Homo sapiens: one gene and its partners. The protein of the gene in region 1 interacts with the protein of each later gene in a pairwise test. Each region holds a gene or a part of one and is shown on either strand. Other genes may lie near its edges. The genes, in order: BDKRB2, SPG7, AATK and SLC2A8.

Evidence for each region.
Region 2: the proteins of BDKRB2 (region 1) and SPG7 interact in a two-hybrid assay, tested with the Homo sapiens proteins (one large-scale study listed by BioGRID and IntAct).
Region 3: the proteins of BDKRB2 (region 1) and AATK interact in a two-hybrid assay, tested with the Homo sapiens proteins (one large-scale study listed by BioGRID and IntAct).
Region 4: the proteins of BDKRB2 (region 1) and SLC2A8 interact in a two-hybrid assay, tested with the Homo sapiens proteins (one large-scale study listed by BioGRID and IntAct).

What each region holds. Positions count from the first base shown.
Region 1 is NC_000014.9:96,210,995-96,215,033, reverse strand, and holds part of BDKRB2 (B2 bradykinin receptor), read right to left. Parts: intron 1-4,039. UniProt on the Homo sapiens protein: Receptor for bradykinin. It is associated with G proteins that activate a phosphatidylinositol-calcium second messenger system.
Region 2 is NC_000016.10:89,525,070-89,529,108, reverse strand, and holds part of SPG7 (mitochondrial inner membrane m-AAA protease component paraplegin isoform 1 precursor), read right to left. Parts: intron 2,781-4,039; coding exon 2,641-2,780; intron 1-2,640. UniProt on the Homo sapiens protein: Catalytic component of the m-AAA protease, a protease that plays a key role in proteostasis of inner mitochondrial membrane proteins, and which is essential for axonal and neuron development.
Region 3 is NC_000017.11:81,124,401-81,128,439, forward strand, and holds part of AATK (serine/threonine-protein kinase LMTK1), read right to left. Parts: intron 3,511-4,039; coding exon 3,392-3,510; intron 3,271-3,391; coding exon 3,183-3,270; intron 2,161-3,182; coding exon 2,027-2,160; intron 1,556-2,026; exon of another isoform or gene 1,477-1,555; intron 974-1,476; exon of another isoform or gene 876-973; intron 615-875; coding exon 530-614; intron 449-529; coding exon 327-448; intron 1-326. UniProt on the Homo sapiens protein: May be involved in neuronal differentiation.
Region 4 is NC_000009.12:127,400,169-127,403,668, reverse strand, and holds part of SLC2A8 (solute carrier family 2, facilitated glucose transporter member 8), read right to left. Parts: intron 1,113-3,500; coding exon 916-1,112; intron 10-915; coding exon 1-9.

The DNA of each region.
Region 1 (4,039 bases):
TGGAATGAATTATGGGTTTATTTACGTAAAAAAGATAATCAGCCAATTTGTGCTTAAAGGAACTCTCTTAGGTCTACAGCTGCCCCCCTGGCAGCTCTGATGCATTCGCTGCTGCAGAAAAGCCTGAACCCAGCCTGATTTTTCTTGCTTTATGGATTGCCTGTCCCCGCCCCCACCAACTCCCCAACCTCCAGTCAATCTGGATGCTTATAGTATTTTCTTTTTCTCTTTTCCATTCAAAAGTGCTGTCAGATGTATTTAGGGGACACTGTCTCGTCTCACCCCTTTTCATAACCTGTGAGCCGGGCAAGGCACCATTGCATAGGTGAGGGCTTGGAGGCTGGAGAGATGAGGGACTGGGACTCAAACCACATTTCGGGATTTGGGGACATCTCCTGGCTGTGCCCTGAGGCCACCCCGACTCTGGCATGTGAGGCAAACCTGCTGTACAACGAAGGGGTCTGGACGAGGGAGTCTCACCAGGGGTGTTCAAATCCCAGCTCTGCCGGTCACTAAGGGAGGGACTGTAAGTGTGTGGCCTCCTGTCAGAGCCCAGGTCCCCGCTTGTGGGATAAGGAGCATTGTCCCCGGCAGGAGGGCTGTTGTGAGGATCCAGTGTGGTCATCCCTGGCACTCAGGAATCCTTCCTGTTGGTTCCCGTCCTCTCTCAGGAATGACAGTCGCCTCCTCTTTCCCCCAAATCCACAGATTGTTCTGTCAAGTGATGGGCCTGGGTGCCCTCACCTCCACCCCCTCAGCCACAGACACCACAGTCCAAACAGACTCCCGGAAGATATGGCCCAGACCACTTGCAGGGAAAGTCCCTGCGGCTGTACTCATCCTCATGGAAAACATGAGGACTGGCGGGGACTGGAGGGCAGGGAGTGAGGGGACATGCAGGGTGCCCCCGTCACAGGGCAGAGGGCTCTGACTGGGGCTTTTGGATCACCGCCCACCATGGGGAGGCCCAGGCAAGGGACTCATGCTCCTACCCATCTCTCCAGCCCCAGCTCCTCCTTCCCCTCCTGTCCCCTCCCTGCCCCACTGGTCTCCCCTGGCCCTGCCTGAGCATCTTTGGGAGTTCCCACCTCTCGACCTTTGCTTATGTAGGGAGGCAGGATGCGATGGGAAGACCCAGGCCAGGCTCCAGGGCCAGCCCAGTCTCTAGCTAGCTCTGTCTCCCCTCTAGGGACCATTTCCTCAACTGTCAAGTGGAGACACAATGCCTACTTGGCAGGTTTGTCGGGGGGGATACTTGTGATTGTTTTGGGGGGCCAAGGGTGCCCTGGGGCTCAGGCATATGTCAATGGCACTGGGCAGTCTCCCCTACCCTTTCTCTCCACTGTGCACCCTCCCTTACTTAGGGAGACCCTCTACTTTACCTAGGTCTAGGTCCTCCAACTTGAAACCTGCCCACAATGACACATCAAACATTGTAGGTGTGTCATAAGCTGGTGTGAGGACATGCAGGCAGCAAAGAAGCAACTTGTGTGTGTACACGTGTGTGTGTGTGTGTGTGTGTGTGTGTGTGTGTGTGTTTGGGTCGGTCCAGACAGAGGCCCAGGAAGAAGAAGAGTGGAGATCCTGCCACATGGCTCCTGATGCTGGAGGCTTAGGGACAAACCATCAGTGTGACTGTCCCAGTGTCCTCTGGGGATGGGACTTGGGGTTACAGATTCAGAGAGCTGTGTTAGAACCACTTGGGTCTCTGCCTGTCTCTCCCACCAGGCTCTCAGCTCCTTGTGGGGAAAGATCTCTGAGCTGAGGGGAGCCCTGAGCAGTCTCTCAGTAAGTGGTTAGGGGAGGAAGGAATAAACCAGCTTCCTGAGTCTAGGCACAGTCTGGGTACTTTCATACACAGTCCTATTGTGTTGGCACAGCAGTAGTCTTTATCACACAGGTGAGAAAGGAGAGGTTCGGAGAGGTCAGTGACCTGTCCTGGGTTACTCAGCAAGTAATTGGCCTAGTAACCTAACCCAGGACTGTTGAACAATCGGGCCAGTTGGTGCCAATTTCTAAATATTGACTATTAAAAAAATACTGGTGGCGAAATAGCTAGCACATCTGTGAGCCTGTTTGGGTTGTGGGCTCAGACCGAACTCCTATAAAGCATATGAAGCAGAGATGGTAGAATCCCAGGCAGGGGCCATGGAATGGGGGAGGGGGCGTTAACTCCTGCTATCCTACCTTTCTATAGGTGAGGCGCCTGCTGTTCAGAGACACAGGAGCATCAGCAAAACCCATCAAAGAACTGGGGGCCAGGGTAGAAAGGAGACCTTTCTGGGGGTGCTGATGGAAACTCCTACCCAGGCAAATCTTGTTTCCCAGGCATTCCCCCAGTGAAGACTGCACTGCTGTGCCCAACTTTGGCTGCAGGCTACTCTTTACCACCCAAGTGAGCCGCCACCCACTGATCTCTGCCATCAACTTATTCTAATTCTCTGCATAGCACATAGCACTTCCTGGGATTGCCCTTCTCCTGTCTGCTCTTCAAAGAGCCATCCTTAGATGGCCTACTGACATTAATGCTTTTTACCTTTCTAACTTGTCATTTTGTTTTTGTAATTCTTTTCTTTCTTCTACTTTTTTGGATCATTATTATCTAGTTTATTGAATTGAACAGTTTTTTTTTGCAATCTTTTTGGTTTAATAATTTAAAAATTTAAAGGCATGACTCATCCCCTGACTATGGCTTTGGCTGCATCCCATAAGTTTGGTAAGCAGTGTTCTTATAGTTAGTTGTTTCTCAAATATCTATAATTTCAGTTTTGATGATCTGTCTCTTTGATGTAACAGTGTTTTCTAAAATTTTCAAGTAGTTTATTTCTATTCAAGTTTGTTTTGCTTTTTATATTTAAATTTTTGCAAAGAGATATGCATCCTCATGGTAACATTTCAGAGTGCGAAAAAGAATACAGTGAGGGGTAGGTCTCCCTCCAGATTCTGTCCCTGCCTGTTGCCTCAAGAGACAGCCAGGCTCACTGGTGTCTCCTGTTGCTTTCCAGACATCTTCTGAGCTTTCAGGAGCAGATGTGCACATATCCATGTATAAGGACGCCTGCAGAAGCACCCTAAATGCACCGCCGGCTGTGTCCTCACCTCTTTGCATTTAACAATCTGTCGACCCACCTTGCTTTTCAATAGCCTCACAGTATTTCAGAGTAGGACTGCCCTGTAATGCACCGGCCTTCGCAGGGAGTTCCCAGTTTTCGTAGGTAGTTTGCAATTCTACTACTATTTATAGCTGAAGGAACCGAAGGATCCCAGAGACCACATCTCTTGCCCTAGGTCACACAGCAGGGGAGGAATGGGGTGGGATTCAATCCCTGTGCCTGGCTTCCGAAAAAGGAGGAGCGGGAGGAGGAGGGAGAAGGGAAGTGGGTGGAGAGAGGAATCATCTTCACAGAGTCCATCTCCCCAATGTGCTACAGTTCATTTGAGGAGTCCCCCCAGGTTTTCACTACTTTTGGCTATCACAAATGATCAGCACAGATCCCTCATCTGCAGGCCCTGGCCCACGTGTGAGCACACCTGTAGCAGGTGTGCAGACCCTCTCCTGCCTCCCCTGACCTGTTCTTGTGTTCTAGCCATTGCTTTCTGGATCTTTCTGTTCAAAGAAGACCAAGAGGTCCTTCTCTCACCTCTCACTTTGCTAACCGGCCAGTGGGCTCCAGAGTGGGGGTGATGTACCCCAGGTGCAGCAGCGCATGCACAAGGTGCAATCTCCGAGGCTCCGGGAGAACCCCAGAGAGCCTCCCTCTGTGGTCAGGGAGTGACCCCTGCACTCTTAGAGCACAGCAGGTGCCAAGCATGAGTGGGTGCTAGGGGCTGAGGGAAAGGCCCAGTCTTTTCCCTCGAGAGGATTCCTGTTTGGTAGGGATGGCGGGGCACAGCCTGATGCTTCCCGAAATGTTTGGGCCCAAATCTACCTTGAAAGGAGCTGGCTGTGAGCTGTGTGCATTTAACAATCTGTCCATTTAAATTTTTGTGGAGATGGGCAGTTTGCTAATAACTTGGATCGGGGAGGGTTTCTGTCCTT
Region 2 (4,039 bases), on another chromosome or scaffold:
CGGGCGCGGTGGCTCACGCCTGTAATCCTAGCACTTTGGGAGGCCGTGGCGGGTGAATCACAAGGTCAGGAGTTTGAGACCAGCCTGGCCAACATGGTAAAACCCCATATCTACTAAAAAAATACAAAAATTAGCTGGACATGGTGGCATGCGTCTGCAATCCCAGCTACTTGGGAGGCTGAGGCAGGAGAAATGCTTGAACCTAGGAGGTGAAGGCTGCAGTGAGTCAAGATCGTGCCACTGAACTCCAGCCTGAGCTACAGAGCAAGACTCCATCTCAAAAAGAAAAGAAAAATGTAAGAATAAACCCTGTGTCTACTAAAAATACAAAAAAACTTAGCTGGATGTGGTGGTGTGCATCTGTAGTCCCAGCTACTCAGGAGGCTGAGGTGGGAGAATCACTGATCCTGGGAGGTCGAGGCTGCAGTAAGCTGAGATTGCACCACTGCACTCCAGCCTGGGCGACAGAGTGAGACCCTGACTCCAAAAAAAAAAAAAAAAAAAAGCAAATCCCAGGACTTTTGCCCTCATCCTGAGGAGGGGCTGCCCTGGGCCTGCCCCAACCCTCCATCTTCTGTACATCATCAGCCTACAAAGACACGAGAATGGGCCTGCCCCAACCCTCCATCTTCTGTTCTGTACATCATCGGCCTACGAAGACATGAGAATGGGCCTGCCCCAAACCTCCATCTTCTTCTTTTTTTTTTTTTTTTGTTTGAGATGGAGTCTGGCTCTGTCACCCAGGCCAGACTGCAGTGGTGCTATCTTGGCTCACTGTAAGCTCCGCCTCCCGGGTTCACGCCATCCTCCTGCCTCAGCCTCCCGAGTAGCTGGGACTACAGGCACCCGCCACCGCACCCGGCTAATTTTTTTTGTATTTTTAGTAGAGACGGGGTTTCGTCGTGTTAGCCAGGATGGTCTCGACCTCCTGACCTCGTGATCTGCCCGCCTCGGCCTCCCAAAGTGCTGGAATTACAGGCGTGAGCCACCGCGCCCGGCCCAAACCTCCACCTTCTGTCCATCATCGGCCTACGAAGACACGAGAATGGGCCTGCCCCAACCCTCCATCTTCTGTACATCACTGGCCTACAAAGACATGAGACACACAGCCTCAGAGCAGTGATCTTCCAGGTGTTGCTGGGTTATAGAATTAAAGGTGCATCTTTTTTTTTTTTCTGTAGAGATGGGGTTCTCCATGCTGCCCAGACTGGTCTCGAACTTGTGGGCTCAAGAGATCCTCCCTGCCTCAGCCTTCCAAAGTGCTGGGATTACAGGCATAGCCACTGCACCCGGCTAGAGGTACATTTTGATCAAGGGAGTACTTGCCAGTCACTGGCATTCTACATCTTCAGAGATTACAAGTCAACAATAAACCTCTGTTTCAGTACCCGCTGGCCCCTCATTTGTCCTACTAAGGAACCTGTCAGGGTCCATGGTCCATACGTGCTGACAGCTCCCACCTGGTCTGTTTCCCTCTCAACACTGAAATGAGAATTTCACCTTCCTGTGTCTACCCTTTTCCCGTTCCATTTTCCTGTCTGTAGAAGAGAGCAAGCCCAGGACATTATCACGGTCCTCCTTGACTTTCTTTCTTACTGCTAGGCTGATCTTGCCTTGCTAACTGAAAGTGATCGCTTACTTTTGAAAACAAAATATACTGAAAATAGAAAAAGCTGAACGTTGTTATTGTCACAAGGCTGGCCAGATCACTAGGTATCTCCGGCATCTGCACACTCACTCTGACCATTTGGGAAGCTTTCATCAAAGAGCACAGTCAGTGAAAATTATACAAGAATGTGAATTCAGAAGCGCCACACAACTAAAGAAAGTGACTAAACAAACTCCAACGGACTTGCACACGGTTGGCCTCCACAGCCACAGGTTTCATCTCTGCAGGTTTAACCAAGCACAGAATGAATGTATCTGGGGAAAAACGTGCATCTATACTCAACATGCACAGACACATTTTTGTCATTATTCCCTAAAGTATAACAACGATTGAAATAGTATTTACAGGGTATTGGGTATTATTATCAACCTACAGATGATTTAAAGCATATCAGAGAATGTTCTTAGGTTACACACAAAGATTTCGGCATTTTACACCAGGGGCTGAGACTTCGCCATCCTACGTCGGGGGCTGAGACTTCGCCATCCTACGTCGGGGGCTGAGACTTCGCCATCCTACGTCGGGGGCTGAGACTTCGGCATCCTACGTCGGGGGCTGAGACTTCGGCATCCTACGTCGGGGGCTGAGACTTCGGCATCCTACGTCGGGGGCTGAGACTTCGCCATCCTACGTCGGGGGCTGAGACTTCGGCATCTTACGTCGGGGGCTGAGACTTCGGCATCTACATCAGGGGCTTAGACTTCAGCATCCTACACCAGGGGCTTAGGCATCCTCAGGTGCTGGTATCCTTGGGAAGTCCGAGAACCAGCCCCCATGGATACCCAGGGATAACTATATTTCCAAATCTCCTGGCATTGTATCATTCACTTCTATATTTATTTAACCCTCCCACTAAAAAGTCTAGTTAACTATAGGCAAAGACAGTTTGAGATTTTTGATTGCAATCTGTTTCTCAGATTACAAAGCCAAGTTAGGTTTAGTTCAAGCATCAACAAATACATCCAACATACTTTCCAAAGAATCCTGTTCGCTTGTAGGAAACTGGGATCCTGTCCTTGGCCTCGATATTCAGCTCATCTTCAGCTGCTCGAAGCTTCTCTTCAAACTTGTCAATATTTGCAACCTGCATTCGGTACATCAAGGCTAGCCGCTGGGGGGCAGAAAGGAGAGGGGACCATGAGAAACGCAGGGACAGACGAGCAACCCTACAGTCAACAGAGAGCCCGCCTGGAACTCATGGTAATGACAACCTCAGCATTGTGAAGAGGACACCATTCAGAAACTAGAGGTGATTCCTAACGTACGACGGTTCCACTTACGGTCTTTCCATTTTACAATGGTGTAAAAGCAATATGCACACTAAGCTCCTTGACCTACGATGGGGCTACCTCCCAGTGAGCCCCTGGGAAGCTGAAAATATCCTAATTCAAGGAACATCTGTACTTCCAAGTCTAAAAAATTTGTTTCCTCAACCACAATTTGAGAAATAAAATTTCAACAGATAGACTTTCTATTTTCCACTCATAGGAAAACTAAGAAATGGAGGGATGTCTGCAAGTTAGCTCACAGCCCCACGTCTGATGTGTGCCTCAGACTCAGCTACACCTGCAGACACAGCAGGAGCCCCCCAGAGGCCGGCGAGGCTGCAGCACGGGACTGAGGATGGCAAAATCAAGACTACGGCCAAAAACAGATGTTTTAGGAAACTGCGGCCACAGAGGGTTCATGTTTAACCACAAAACCTGAGACTGTTCATCCCTCACACCAGGACACCAACAGGTCCGTCTCCCTGGCACACGATTCTCCAAACGCAGCGTTTTCCTAAGTAAACTCCGCATGTTTAGCTCAGATTTCAGCATGACTGGACGGCAACACCCCAAAGGGAGGACACAGACGGACTTGCGGGACTCTCTTTGAGGTTAACTGGAAACTCCAGCAGAGGACAGGGATGAGGGGTGGGGATGGCACCTGCTGCTCCCTCACTCACACCCCAAACTGCTAAGACAGAATTCTGAGCATTTTCTCTTTAAGGCAGCTGTTTTATCAGGTGACTCGTCTAGAGCTGAGCATAGTGTTGTAGGTTAAAATAACCTTCCAGACTGAAATAATCAGGCATCCACCAGAGGATTTACGTGAATGAGCACCGTCTTCTGCACTTAGCCATGGTGTATTTTAAGAACAAGGTTTCCTGTTTTTAAAAATAGCAAGACAGCGCCAGGCGTGGTGGCTGACGCCTGTGATCTGGCACTTTGGAAGGCCAAGGTGTAAGGATCACTTGAGGCCAGGAGTTCAAGACCAGCCTGGGCAATATAGTGAGACCTCATCTCTCCAAAAAAACAAAAAATTTAAAAATTAGCCAAGTGTGGTGGTGCGCGCCTGCCATCCCAGCTACAGGGGAGGCTGAGGTGG
Region 3 (4,039 bases), on another chromosome or scaffold:
CAACACCCCACCCAGACCCTCTCCCCAGGGACAGGTACTCACCAAGGCCCCCGTCTCAGGACAGACCCCCCGGCATGCTGAAGACGGGCCGTTGGCCCTGTACGTATGCCTTGACCCCACCATGGGGTCCCTGGGGCACCCTGTCAGGGTGGTATCTCCCCCGGTGTGGGGTCGCCACCCAACCAGCCACTTGGGCTGCTGGCGTGTGGCCACTACAGGTGGCTCCGGCAGCCCCCTGACCTCACTACTCATGGCCATGATTTGACATGGGTGGGCAGGTGGCACTCGGCCTCGGCCCCTCACGGTGCCACCAGGGCCGCACTCACCACACATTCCCGCTCTTGGTCTGGTCCACGACGAGCAGGTTGCTATGCACCTCGTCCACCAGCTCTGGCGCGATCCAGCGCAGAGGCACCCACAGCTGGTCGGCAGTCACGAAGTAGTCCTCCTGTTGGCACAGGGACGGGTCACCCCTGCCGGCGCAGGCCCTGCCCCTCATGCCCAGCCCAGCCCACCCCACCCCACTCACTCTGTACTTGCAGTGAGCCAGGCCATAGTCACCAATCTTCACCGTCAGGTCAGCCGTGAGCAGGCAGTTCCGCAGGGCCAGGTCGCTGCAGGCAGGGGCAGGGGCAGGGGCAGGGTGAGCAGGGTGAGCAGGGTGTGCCGGGTGGGGGCAGGGGGAGGGTCAGTGGGGTGTGCCGGGCGGGGGCATCCAGCACAGGGTCCTTTGCCAACACTTGGATGGCTCACAGTCCAGGCTGGAAGGGGCGTTGGAGACACTGCCACCCCCCATCCCTGCCCAGGGCCCTACTCTGTGCCCAACCCTGAGACCTGGGGAGGGACTGTGTGCGTGGGCCTCAAATGTTACAGTGCAGAGGAGAATGGGGCCTAGAGAGGGTGAGAACCTGCCGGAACCCACCCGGACCGGTCCACGCTTCTCCAGGACCCTCTCCTCCTAGCTCTACTACACTATCACTCTCGGCTCCCCAGGAGGTGGGAATTGATGGGGAAACTGAGGCCTGGAGTGTCCCAGGGGTCCTGCCGGCTGCCGGAGTCCAGTTTTAGGGTCCAGCCCTGCCATGCCCACTCAGAGCTGGAGCTCACTCTCACTTGAGCCACCACTGGCCCCAGGGTTGGGTAGGGTCTGGAAAGAATGCAGGTTACGCCTGGCACTACCTCCAACCCAGCCTGCCTTGGCTGCTGGCTTTGAACCCTGCCTGGCTGGTCACGTGGGTGTGAGGAGGCACAGGGTACTGGGTAGATATTACCACAGCTGCCGTATTACTTCTGTGCTCAGGACTCAGGGTGGGGACAGAGGCCAACCCAGCCTGTCCCTCCCCACATAAAACCCATGTCTGCGTGCCAGGGGATCGCTACAGGGCCATGTGTCCTGGGCCTAGGGGGTGGAGTGGGGTGGGTTGGGGTTGGGGGCAGGGCAGCTGGGGCCCGGCAGGCAGGTCGGGAGGCTGGCAGCTGCCCTCTTCAACAAAATCACTGATGCTGGAGTCGCCTGAGTCATCACTCAGCACCAGGATATTGTTGGAGAGGACAGCCGTGCGGCGTCTGGGGCTGACGGGGCCACGTGTCCTTCGCCACTTCTTCCAGCATGTCCCCCCGGGGTCCCCAGGGGCTGGGCATCCTGGCCCAAGCAGGACAGAACCCTCCCTCCAGGGTCCTTCGAAGCAGGGTCTGTCTCCCTCAAGCCCCAAAGCGAGGGCTTAGCAGAGTGTGGGGTTGGCGCGGGGCTGCAGGGTGCTGGCTGACTGCCTCGGGGACAGAGAACAGGCCAGCTTGACAGTACGCATCTCTTCGTCTAAACCTGCAAAGTGGGTGTCAAACCATTGTCTTCCCAATTTTTCAAAAACGTCATAAAATCCCTCTGCATAGTGGTTGTCTGATGCTGCATGAGATGAACCTGGCCGGTCCTCGCAAGCCCCCTGAGGCAGGACCCGCCCTATGCCCTTCCTTCAGGGGAGGGGCCTGGCCTAGGGCTTCCCGGCCGCTGGCCCGCGCCCGCCCTCACCTGTGCACGAAATTGTTGCGATGAAGGTGCAGGACGCCACAGGCCACCTCACAGGCCATGCGCTGCAGGGTCCGGGGGTCGGGAGCCATGGACTCCGCCACCCGGCAGCTCCGCAGGTAGCCCTTGAGGTCCCCCTGCAGAAAGGGGGTGTGGCGCAGTCACCAGCAGGCTGGGGGCTGGCCACCCTGGGAGGTCCCCACCTACCTCCCCAACTCCTCCACCCCTACCCACAGCTGAGGGACAGCAGCTGCCCAGAGCAGCCTCGTGCCCTGCACAGTGGCCAGCACCCAGCAGTTCCTGGAGGGGGGCCGTGTCCCCCAGGGCTGGGCTGGACTGAAGGCTTCCTCTCCACTGCCCCTCAGCCAGCCCCGGGCAGCAGGAGTCCCTTGGCCTGTGGTAGAGAGAGAAACACAGGGCCCAAGTGGATCTGCTTGATGGAGTCTGGGGCTGGTGGTCGAGGGTTGGCCGGCAGCCCCTGACCTGCCGAAAGCCCAGCCCCGGGACGGTCAACGTCAGGAGTCCAGACGCCAGTGTGTGAGGGCCCCTGTCCCGAGGGAAGCCAGCAGGGGATCCAGCCCAGCCACAGACAGCCTCGGCTCAGTGCAGGAGCTGCATATGTGGAAGGGGGTGGGGGGCAGGTCTCGGGGGAGGGGGAGACGGGTCCCCGGGGCAGGGGGGCGTTGATGGGCAGGTCTCAGGGGGAGGGGGGGACAGGTCCCCGGGGCGGGGGGCGTTGATGGGCAGGCCCAGAACTCCAGGCAGCCTGGGGAAGTGGCCAGGCCCAGCCCCCCATGGCAAAAGCAAGCCTGAGTGAGGCCGTGGAGCCCAAGTGGGCCAGTGCCCCCCCCCAGTTGGCCCAGGATGCCTCCTCCTGAACCACAGGGCACACAAGCAGGTGACCAAGCAGCTGGCAGCTCCCCAGGGGTGCAGGGAGCCCCAGCCCAGGCCTGTTCTGTGCCCAGCCCCCACAGTCCCTCCCTGGTGAGGCTAGGTCTCCCCATCGCCTCCTCTGGAAGGTGGTGGGGGCAGGGTCCCTGGGTCTTGGCTTTAGGGAGGATGTGAGGCCCCCAAGGAGGGGGTGGCACCAGACACTGGCAGGGCAAGGGAGGGCCCCGGCTCAGCAAAGACCCCAGCATCCCCCCGGGCAGCAGCTCACCAGTGGGCAGAACTCCATCACCAGCAGGTAGGGCGTCACCTCGGCGCACTGGGCCAGGCACTGGAGCAGGTTGCTGTGCTTCAGGGCCCTGCGGGAGTGGACAGGCGGCCCCTGACTTGGGAGGAGGTGGGGAGGGGGAGTCGGGCCGAGCAGGGGAGGGAGAGGAGGGGGCCGCACAGCACAGGCCTTTGTGCCCGGTGGCCTCCCACCTGTAGGGCTGCACCTCCTCCAGGAACTGCATCTGCTCCTGCACGCTGGCACTAGCCTGCAGCTCCTTCACCACCACCTGGGCACTGCTGATGCCAGAGTTCACCTCCCCCAGGAACACCTGTGGGACAGACAGCATCACCCACGGCTGCTCCGCCTCCACCGGCCCCGGCTTCCAGGCCTTACTCTTCTCCCACCCGCCCCACGCCGGCCCCCAGGACAGGACACTTCTCCTCCTGTGCCCCGTCCACTCATTGCAGCGTGAGGTATGGCTTCCGGATCCCTCCCGGCAACCCTCTGGCTGTAATATTCTGAGTCTTTCGTGTTACTCTCCCCACAAGGTCCCCCGCTGCCCTCTCTCTCTCTCTCTCTGGGGGTTTGAAGTGAGGAAGAGGGACCCAGGTGTCTCGTTTAGGCCAAGGTCAGGGGAAGGCCATGAGCAAGAGGCTGCTCCTCTCCCTCCCAGGGCCCCTCCCCAGGTACCTCTGACCCCAGGACCCCCTAGGGAGAAGGGGATGCAGCCAGATGCTGAGGACCTCCCTGGGGAAGGGTCCAGCAGGGCCCAGAGACTGAAGAAGGGACCGTCGGGGCTGGGGTGGCTCCTAGGAGGAGCAGGTCTGCAGCCCTGTGTCCCTTCTGCCTCCCAGGCG
Region 4 (3,500 bases), on another chromosome or scaffold:
GTGAAAGCTCTGCTCTGACGGATACTGGCCATCAGGATTTCTCTCTCCCCTCCCGCAAGCGGCCCCCCTCTGGGGGTCTACTGTCCTAAGGCTTGGGGAGCGCTGACTCCCACGTCTTGGCTCCTCATCCCAGCACCCCCTGTGTCCTCAGGTGTGCAGACAAGTCCCAGCCTCCCCATGTGTCAGGTGAGATGACCCTCACCTGCCCAGGGCACTTCCTGATAGGTGGGGGGGAGCCACAAAGAGGTAATCTGGGCAAAGAGCAAGCTGCTGCCCTCATCCCTGCCACCACCAACACATCCAGCACCTGCCTCAGGTCTGGGCCTGGCCCTAGCTAAGCACCTCCTACAGCCCTGACCCTCCCCTCCCCACTGAACCCATCCTCCTCGCTGACCCCACCCTCCCCACTGAGCCCCCCTCCTCCCTAAGCCCCGCCTTCCTTTCCCCCACTGAGTCCCACCCAGCACTGTGAAGCAGGTGCTGACTCCCACATCACAGGTGAAGAGCTAAAGCTTAGGTGAGGGGCAGCGTGGGGGCTTCAAACCCATGCCTGGGTGACTCTAAAACCCAGACTTTTAGCCCTCTACCCTGCCTTGCAACTCCTTTGTTAAATCCAAGTCCTCAGCTCTGCCTCTGTATCCCCCACCAGGCCTGGCCATTCTCTTCCTGGGACAGTAAGGGTCAAAGCTCGGGCTTTGCTGGTGACTTTGGAGGCCAGGGCCCAGCTCCGTGGGGCTCCAGCTGTCTTGGCCTGCTCAAAGACAGGACACACTGGGCCTGTCCTCGCTGAGGGTGGAGGGTGGATAGGCACCTCCCTGTCCCCCACCCCCCAAGTGTGTGGCCTTGGGAACAGGCTGTGCTACCCTCCCGTGACTGCTGTCCCACTCCTGTCAGCTCTGCCTTCCAGCCTCTCACCTGCTCAGCCCCGATGGGGGGGTCTTCCCAGCCCTGCTCGGAGCCCCACAGGAACCGCAGGGCGGCCATGGCCTCCTGGCGCCTGTGCTGAGTCAGCAGGAAGCGCGGGGTCTCGGGCATGAAGCACATGAGAAGCAGCATGAGGGAGGGGGGCACGCAGCCCAGCACAGCCAGCCAGCGCCACTCCAGCACCCAGCCTGCGGGGGGTGGGTGGAGGAGGCTGGCGTCAGAGCCAGGGTGAGCCAGCCTGGGCCTTGCCAGCCTCAAAGACTCAGCTTCAGAGATGGGGCCTCGCTGCCTCTGCACATCTGCCCTCATGTTCGCTACTGACATTGCCATTATCACAACTGTTCATGAAGGCACATGGCACGGGCCAATCACACCAGCTGCGGAAGCGACAGTGGGTATGACAACGCGGACATTACTAGGCTGCATCCGTTCAACGAAACATTTATGTAGCCACAAAAATGAAGGATGAGGTGCTTGCTGCGTGTCCGCATGGTATGATGTGGCACCATTTGTAGAAGAGGTGGGGGAGGGAGGATAAATATGCATGTCCCTCATATGAACAGACTCTCTGAAGGCTACCAAGAAACAGGCAATGGGGACTCCCCCAGACAAGAAAGGGACAGAGGCGGAGGAAGCTTTTCACTGGACATCTCTCCACTCTGGCACTTGAGTGTTGAGTCATTTGAATGCATTATCTATTCAAAGTATACATGAAAGTAGAGAGGTGAGAGGATTTTGCTGTCTTGACGTATGAAGAACAGCATAAGTGCAGAATTACCTAGTTTTATATAAAGTTAAAAGGTTCTCTTACAAAGGGGCCCTGGAATAAATGAGTCTAGGGCATTGCTGCTCTAATTACTAATTTTTCCTAAGCCCAAGGCTTACCCATCCCTGGTTCCCAGTGGAAAAATACCTCTAAGGTAGCCATGATGTCCCTATTTTTCTTCTGTGCTGGGGGTGCAGACAATTGTTCTATGAAGTCTAGTCGTTGGAACATGATTGCCCCAATGTGAAGCAAACGTGCCACCACCATGTCACTTTGTGGAGTTATCAGAGTTCACCCACCCCAGTGGATCGAAACTCACAGAAATTGATCAGGAAAGGCAGGAGAAGCAACAAGCACATATTAAGATGAGCTGAAGATAGTGCCACGGGTGGGTGGACACCCAGTACCTGTCCCCGAAATGATGAATGTCAACACCTGCACACAGTGGGGGCTTTGGTTTACTCAGGTCTCCCAAGGTAGCCAGATCGCTGGCAGGATTCTGAATTTGTTAGGGTGGTTAAGTGGGTAAAAATGAAACACCAAAGACCTGTGTATCATCCGCCCTGACGATGCAGAGGGCTTGTGCCCTGGGCCAGGCCATAGCCCGTCAGGCCCCCGAGGCCTCCTACCCCGATGATCCCCATGGTTCTCAAGTCATCCCTTGACAATTCTCATTTGGAACCCACTGTTAGGCACTTTTCATGTGTCAATTAATTTAATGGACAGGTACTGGACTAGATGAGGTTATGCCCATTTCAAGACAGAGAAACTGAGGCTTTCAGAGGTGGTATGACTTGGCCAAGGTCACACAGCACGTAGGAGAGGCTATCCCCAAACTCAGGATGGTCAGATTTGAAGCCTGCCCTTGTTTTTTCTTTCTTTTTGAGACAGAGTCTCACTGTGTCGCCCACACTGGAGTGCAGTGGCGCGATCTCAGCTCACTGAAACCTCAGCCTTCTGGGTTCAAGCAATTCTTGTGCCTCAGCCCCCCAGGTAGCTGGGATTACAGGTGCCCACCACCACGCCTGGCTAATTTTTGTATTTTAAATAGAAATGGGTTTTCACCATGTTGGCCAGGCTGATCTCGAACTCCTGACCTCAAGTGATCCGCCCACCTCTGCCTCCCAAAGTGCTGGGATTACAGGTGTGAGCCACTGGGTCTGGCCTCTAAAGCCTGGCCTCTTTCTAATGAGAACACACCTGTCTCCTGAAGTTTCTTCATGCTGGCCCAGCTTTGCCCCTCGGGGTCCCCAGGACCCCGGCCTCCTTCACGTTGCAACTCGCCGACATGGTGAATCTGGCACTGACATTCTCAGGGGACTTGCTCAGCCCTTTACTCGCCCGGGCTGAAGATTTTTACAGGGACCCACCCACCTCTGGAGCCCTCTGGTTTGTCACTGCACAGTAAGGTACTGACCTAAGCAGTCAGCCCTTCCCACACCCCTAGAGGGGGCTTCAGGAAAGCTGAGGGTATCACCTTCTCCAGCTGTCCCTGGAACTCAGTCATAAGACACACCTATCGGCCGGGCGCGGTGGCTCACACCTGTAATCCCAGCACTTTGGGAAGCTGAGGTTTGGCGGTTCATGAGGTCAGGAGATCAAGACCATCCTGGCTAACACGGTGAAACCCCCTTTCTACCAAAAATACAAACAATTAGCCAGGTGTGGTGGCACATGCCTGTAGTCCCAGCTACTTGGGAAGCTGAGACAGGAGAATCGCTTGAACCCAGGAGGCAGAGGTTGCAGAGAGCCACCACTGCACTCCAGCCTGGGCGACAGAGCGGGACTCTGTCTCAAAAAAAAAAAAAAA